Linked DNA regions of Homo sapiens. The protein of the gene in region 1 purifies or fractionates together with the protein of each later gene. This does not show direct contact. Each region holds a gene or a part of one and is shown on either strand. Other genes may lie near its edges.

Region 1 (3,576 bases):
AACTCTAGTGATTCAAATAAGTAAATAAAATAAAACAAGTAATCAATAAGTAAATAAAATAAGTAATCAATAAGTAAATAAAATAAGTAAATCAATAAGTAAATAAAGTAAAACAAGCCCTTGAGTCCTAAGGCTGACATATGTTCTTTCAGTTCATAAATTGGTTTTGCTTAATCCACATTCCTATTATGACTTATTCCTTGTTATGATTTGGCCAAGATGGCAGCTTTCAGGGACCCATTTCCACCACCGGTGTCTTCCAGAAGGCCACAGCCACTGTGGCAGGTGCCGAACTCACCTGGAATCCAGGAATATCAGCTTCAGGTCAAGGCTGGCCCTGAACATGAACATGTTACTGTACAGCTTGATCTCGGTGATGGCACTGGGTGGCAGCGACTGGCCCACGGCCACCAGCCCCACAATCTGGTAGCAGGAGTCGTACAGGGACATGTCCAGCATATACTGCCTGATCTTCAAGTAGCCACTGCAGTGGATGACCTGGGAGTGGAGAGGGCAGGGTCAGCCACTGGCCACTGGGGTTGGGCTGGAGCCCACTCCTCCTGGCTCATTTTCTCAAACATGCTAGAATATCTCCCAGCCCAGCCTCTACTCCACTGTGCGGCCCAATGTGCTGACAGGCACCGGTTCATTGCTTAGGAGAAGTGGAGAGCTGTGCTTCTTAGGAAACAACATAACAGCTGGAAGCAGTGGCTCAGTCTTGCCATCTCAGCACTTTGGGAGGCCGAGGTCGGGGGATTGCTTGAGTCCAGGAGTTCGAGACCAGCCTTGGTGACATGGCGAAACCCCTTCTCTACAAAAAATACAAAAATTATCCGGGCATGGTGGTGCATGCCTATAGTCTCCAGCTACTTGGGAGGCTGAGGTGGGAGGATCACTTGAGCCCTGGAGGCGGGGGTTGCAGTGAGCCGAGATTGTGCCACTGCACTCCAGCCAGGGTAACAAAACAAACTCACAAGACAACAAAAAATATCATAATAAAATATAAGGGTTGTCTTATCCAATTGACTGTACTGTAAGTAACTACAAATTAGGGCCCTGTCATATATGATGGAGATATACATATGAGCTCACTGCCAAGCTGTGAGTAGGTAACACAATAAAGGCATCTGGGGGAGGCCAACCATTTGTTCCACAGTGCTTGCATCACTGACGATGCTGCTTACCACCTTCCAATGGGATTGAACTTGGCATCTGTATCACTCGACACGCTGTACCAGTAAATAAACAATTCTTTCCGTAGATTTTTTTTTAGACAAGGTCTCACTGTCATTCAGGCTGGAGTGCAGTAGTGCAATCAGGCTCACTGCAGCCTTGACCTCCCAGGCTCAAGTGATCCTCCCACCTTAGCCTCCTGAGTAGCTGGGACCACAGGCATGTGCCACCGTGCCTGGCTAATTTTTTAAAAAATTTTTTGTAGAGACAAGGTCTCATTATGTTGCCCAGACTGGTCTCGAACCCCTGGGCTCAAGCAATCCTCCCACATTAGCCTTCCAAAGTACTGGAATTACAGGCATGAATCACTGTGCCCTGCCCCAGTACAATTTTTTGAAGTCTTCATTTTTAATGTATTTTTATTTCCTTTATTTATAATTCAAGATTTTATTTCCTCATAATAATAAGCCAGAGTGGCCCTACAGAAGCCCTTCCAATTGCTATAGCCAAAAGCCATACAGACAAGAATGCAGTGTTTCGGTGTCAAACAGAAACATCTGTACAGCCTCGAGCGTCACTACTGGAAGCATTTATTCAAGCTGCAGTCTGTGAAATCTTGACAGGGTCAATATCATCATGACAACAGTGAAGAATCTTAGCCTTAAGTTCTCTGTTCCAAAACTCTTTCTCCAGGATTTCTGAATGCATTCATCATCTTTAGGGCTAAAACAAATCTTAAAATCCTTCCAGTCTATTCTCCCATTTTACTAATGAGGAAACCAAGAACAAGATGGTGTTGTGTATTGCTTAAGATTGGACAGCGGACAGTTAATAAGTGGCAAAAAAAAGTCAAGACCCAAGTCCCATCCAGGCGCGGTGGCTCCTGTCTGTAATCCTGACACTTTGGGAGGCCAAGGCAGGAGGATTGACTGAGGCTAGGGACTCAAGACCAGCCTGGAAACACAGCAAGACCCCATCTCCACAAAAAATTTTAAAAATTAGCTGGGTGTGGTGGCGTGCGCCTGTGGCCCCAGCTACACAGATGGCTGAGGTGGGAGGATCATTTGAGCCCAGGAGTTTGAGGCTCCAGTGAGCTGTGATTGCACCACTGGACTCCAGCCTGGGTGACAGAGCAAGACCCTGTCCCTTAACAAAAAGACCCAAGTGCCCTGAAGAATGTCTGTTGGCTCCTGGGGCCCCACCGTGGCCCAAAGAGGCTTAGTATCTGGGACAAAAAGGAAGAAACATGTCCCCCGAACTGTAACAGCACAGTGAGATATAGGTCAAAGGAGGAGCTCAGAGTGGGGTCAAAGAGGGGAGCTGGGGCGGGGCCTTCCAGAAAGAGAGGACAAAGGCACAAAAGTGCCCTTTCCTCTCACCCCATCCTCCTCCCTTCTTTTCTAAGAGACAAATCCTCCTGGAAGAAAGTTTCTGGCAGCTTTCAGCCTCATATTGATGGGTTATGATGTCTGTCCTCTGAGGTTGGAGAGATGGCAGTGAAGATGCCTGGGAGGAGGGTAAGGAGCCCAGAGAGGGGACAAAAGTGTTGGCGGGGGGCACTCAGCACAGACTTCCCCCGACCCACTTTTCCCTGGGGGGCGGCTGACTCTCGTGCCCTGAGACATGACCTACTCCTCCATTCTGGAATTAACAAGAACAAGCGGTGGTGTCTGGCAGAGACGTGGAGCCAGGGAGGAGCATGGGCTGGGCTCAGAGTCCCAGCTCCGCCACCAAGCCCCTTCTGCCGTCCCTCCTCTGGTCCTTGACTAGAAAACTGGGCCAGTGCTGCTCATTCCAATGGGCAGCTGAGATGCTTGAGGGAGTGGCCCAGGTGTGGTGCCGCAGATGAAAGCTCTGCCTTGGACCTTGGAAAGGGCGCTAGCATTATTGTGGTGCACACCGTCATCGGCGGCAGGGAACTTGGTGGAGCATCCCAAGGGGAAGGGCAGTGTCCGTGCTCTGGATACCACTGCCAGCTGCACTGTGCCCAGGAGGATGGGCCTCTATAAACTCCAGAGGCGGTGGCTCCACTGGGACTGGTCCACATGGAAAGTGCCAAGGTATTAATAAAATCTGCCCTAAGCCACACTGATTCCGGGTCTTATGCGATGAATTCCAGCCAGCTGGAACATCCTCCTAAAACACCAGCTCTCACATGAGCCTCCAAGAGACTGTGCACCACGTTGCTGGAGAGCTCTACATTAGTGGGGATGACGAGTTTGTGCTCCCGTGCCTTCCTTTCTGCAGACGCTCTTGAAAACACACATTGAAGACCCTTAGCCAGCTCCTCCCCGCACCCATGACTCCCCGTACCTTGTATCCGCTGCAGGTCAGGCCCGCGTTCCTTTTCGCCAAGACACATTTCATTCGAAGAAAGAACGACCTCTCTATCTCATACTCTGC
Region 2 (3,576 bases), on another chromosome or scaffold:
TTTTTTGAGACAGAGTCTTGCTCTGTCCCCCAGGCTGGAGTGCAGTGGCAGGATCTCCACTCACTGCAAGCTCCACCTCCTGGGTTCACACCATTCTCCTGCCTCAGCCTCCCAAGTAGCTGGGACTACAGGCACCCGCCACCACACCCGGATAATTTTTTTTGTATTTTTAGTAGAGACGGGGTTTCACCATGTTAGCCAGGATGGTCTTGATCTTCTGACCTCGTGATCCACCCACCTCGGCCTCCCAAAGTGCTGGGATTACAGGCGTGAGCCACTGTGCCTGGCTGTTTTTAGACTTTTAATTCTGTTCCATTGATCTGTATAGATGCCTGTCCTTATGCCAGTACCACACTGTTTTGATTACTGTAGCTTTATAGTAAGTTCTGAAGATTTTATTCCTTGTTTTTGTTCTGTTCCTTCATTATTGACTTGGCTTTTTTGACAGTTTGATTATGACATCTAGGTGAGGCTGGCTCCCTTTTAGTTTATTTTACTTGGAATTCATTGAGCTTCTTGGGTGTAATTTTTTTCATGTCAAATTTGGAAAGTTTTTAGCCATTATTCTTTCAAATATTCTTTCTTCTTTTCTCTTCTGTATGTTGGTATGCTTAATAGTGTCCCTCAGGTTCTGTGACTCTGTTTATTTTTCTTCACTGTTTTTTCCTCCTGTTTCGCAGTTTGGGTAATCTCAATTGACCTGTCTTCAAGTTTGCTTGTTCTTTCTTCTAAATGCTAAAAAGTGGTTTTGAGCCCCTTTCATGAACGCTTATCTTTTCCCCCTTTTACTTTTGAACTCCAGAATTTGTATTTGATTCTTAAAAAAATGGTAATAATAATTTCTATCTCGTTATCAGTATCAATAGTGATACTGATATTTATTGATATTCTCTACTTAAAAGACGTTATTCCCATACTTTCCTTTAGTAATTTTTGCATAGTTTTCTTAGCTCTTTGAGCATATTTAAAATAGGTGATTTAGAGACTGTTTTCTGCTAAGTTCTTCATATGTGGGCTTCCTCAGGGACAGATTTTATTGATTGCTTTCTTTTTCCTATGTATGGGCCATACTTTGTTGTTTCTTTGTCTAATTTTTTTTTTTTTGCTGTTATTGAGAAATGGATTTTTAAATAACACAATGGGGTGACTCAGGAAATCAGATGCTCCTTTCTTCCCATGGTTGCTATTGGTACGTGATATAGTTGTTCTTGTTTAATGACTTTTCTGAACTAATTCTGTAAAGTTTGTATTCTTTATTGTGTCTGACCAGTGAAATCTGTACTTGGTGAACTTAGTGGCCAAGTAATTATTAGATGGCGATTTCCTTAAACTCCTGGGATCAGTAAACACCTGTTTTTGTCGAGGGGCTTCATCTACCTGTTGGAGCATACCTTCATTGCTTGGCCTAACAGTTAAAAACTGCCTTAGCCTTTATTTCCTGCTGATGTTGAGTCAAAGTCAGCCAGAGGTGAGAGCTTAAGGCCTTCTTAGGTTTTTCCTGAGTGTGCAGTGAAGCTCTGTACATTCATGTGTCTTTCTAGATTCCTGGGAAAATGTCAAAGCTTTTCAAAGCCCCCACGGACATTTTATTTCCCACCTTTGCCTTTGGTTTGCCTCAGTTGTTATCTGCCACCTCAGGAGGCTGCAAAGTTAAAACACTTGCCGTATTTTCAACAGACACTCCTGGGTTGGGAGGAAGGCTTTTCTGAGTTTAGCCAGAAACAGTCAGTCAGTCTTGCAAATGAGGTCTTACAGGGAACCATCAGACAGGTCAAATGATGACAGTTCTTTGAGAATGAAGCTTTGAAAGAGCTCTAAGAGCACTGTTTTCTCCAGCGATGGCTGCTACGCTGTACCAGGAATGCGGCCTGCTGAGAGCCTGGAGAGTGGGGATGGGTCTAGGCCAAATTAAAATATCACAGAGCTCACTGTTCTTACTGAGATGTGGTTGTTTTCCTTGAATTAATGCTCCCTGGGTTCCTGCAAACCTTTGGTTAGTTTCCAAAATCCATAAGAAGTTGATACTGACAATTTTTGCCAACTTTTTGGTTGCTTTTATGGAGGAGAGCTTTTTGGAGGCCTGTAGTAACCACCATTTTCACTGACATCCTTTGGATCAGGAATCTCTTAAATCTTTTTTGTTTTCCTGAGGGTTCTTGCTGCCCTTCTTTTTTATCTTGTTATCAAAAATAGTATACTTCATCATAACCTCAGAATTACCCAGATTCATTAATACTGAGTATTGTCTAGAAATCTCTTTCTGCCTGAACTCCACTCTAGACTGGTTATTTCCTGTTCTGCTGTATAGCTACACTCCTGGTATTTTCTTCCTGCGTTTATAGATTAAATGCAGTTTTTGGACTTGAGTTGGATATTCCTCTTTTTCAGTTTTCATCCTCATTTTGTTTTTCTCAAAGTGATATATAATGTAGAATTGTTGTATATCTTAAAATGCATTTATTTTAACTTTTCACTTATTTCTCAGTTTGGGTGTATGTAGAATTCTAGCTTAAAAATAATTTTCCCTTGTTAGGATTGAAAGGGATATCTTCTTACACTCTGTGTAATTGATTCTGGAAGTCTATTCCATCTCTTTGTGAGTAAGCTTTTTCTCCTCCTTGGAACTTTCAGGACCTTTTTAAAAACACCCAGTGTCATAAAATTTCATGAGTCTTTCATTCATTCTGCTTAGCTCTTGGTGGGACTTTTCAATCTGGAGGCATATTTTCCTTTGGCTCTGGAAAATTATCTTATTACTGTCATAATTTCTGGAATGCCAAATTGATTGCCTGAATTGATCTGTGTTTCTACCTTGATTTCTTTGACTTTATCTTCCAGCCTCTTTATTGAAGTTTAATTTTAGCTACTGTATTTTAAATTCTTGTGTTCTTTCTTTTTGGCCTAATTGTTCTATTTTCATATTTTATTCTGGTTATATGGATATAGTGTCTTCTCAGATCTCTGTGAAGACATAAAATAGAAATATTTTTGGATATCTTTTTTCCAAATTAGCTCTGTATTTTTTTTTAACTTGTTTTCATCTGCCTGTTTTTTCTCACAAGATGCAGTCTTCAGTTCTCTAGTTTTTTTTTTTTTTTTTTTTGAGACAGAATTTCACTCCTGTTGCTCAGGCTCCTGTTGCAATGGTGCAGTCTCGGCTCACCGCAACCTCTGCCTCCCAGGTTCAAGCGATTCTCCTGCCTCAGCCTCCGGAGTAGCTGGGGTTACAGGCATACAACACCACGCCTGGCTAATTTTGTATTTTTGGTAGAGACGGGGTTTCTCCATGTTGGTCAGGCTGGTCTCGAACTGTCAACCTTAGGTGATCTGCCTGCCTCGGCCTCCTAAAGTGCTGAGATTACAGGTGTGAGCCACCATGCCCGGTCTTTTTTTTTTTTTTAATACAAAAATATTTTTCTCCCATTCTCTTGAGTGTGGGACCGTATTGATGGGTTTGTCTACTGTGTGTCTGAAACCTGCTCGTCCCACCACCACCGACAGCTGAGTGGATTGACCAGTCAGCTTTGCTTTATAGGACATAGGGTCTTGGCATCCTAATGCTTGAGTGAGTAGGAC

What was found. The genes of interacting proteins can lie anywhere in the genome.
Region 2: the proteins of SIM2 (region 1) and NUDCD3 purify together in Homo sapiens (affinity purification with a luminescence readout; one large-scale study listed by IntAct). This does not show direct contact.

What each region holds. Positions count from the first base shown.
Region 1 is NC_000021.9:36,723,041-36,726,616, reverse strand, and holds part of SIM2 (single-minded homolog 2 long isoform), read right to left. Parts: intron 3,573-3,576; coding exon 3,487-3,572; intron 499-3,486; coding exon 299-498; intron 1-298. UniProt on the Homo sapiens protein: Transcription factor that may be a master gene of CNS development in cooperation with Arnt. It may have pleiotropic effects in the tissues expressed during development.
Region 2 is NC_000007.14:44,407,094-44,410,669, reverse strand, and holds part of NUDCD3 (nudC domain-containing protein 3), read left to right. Parts: intron 1-3,576.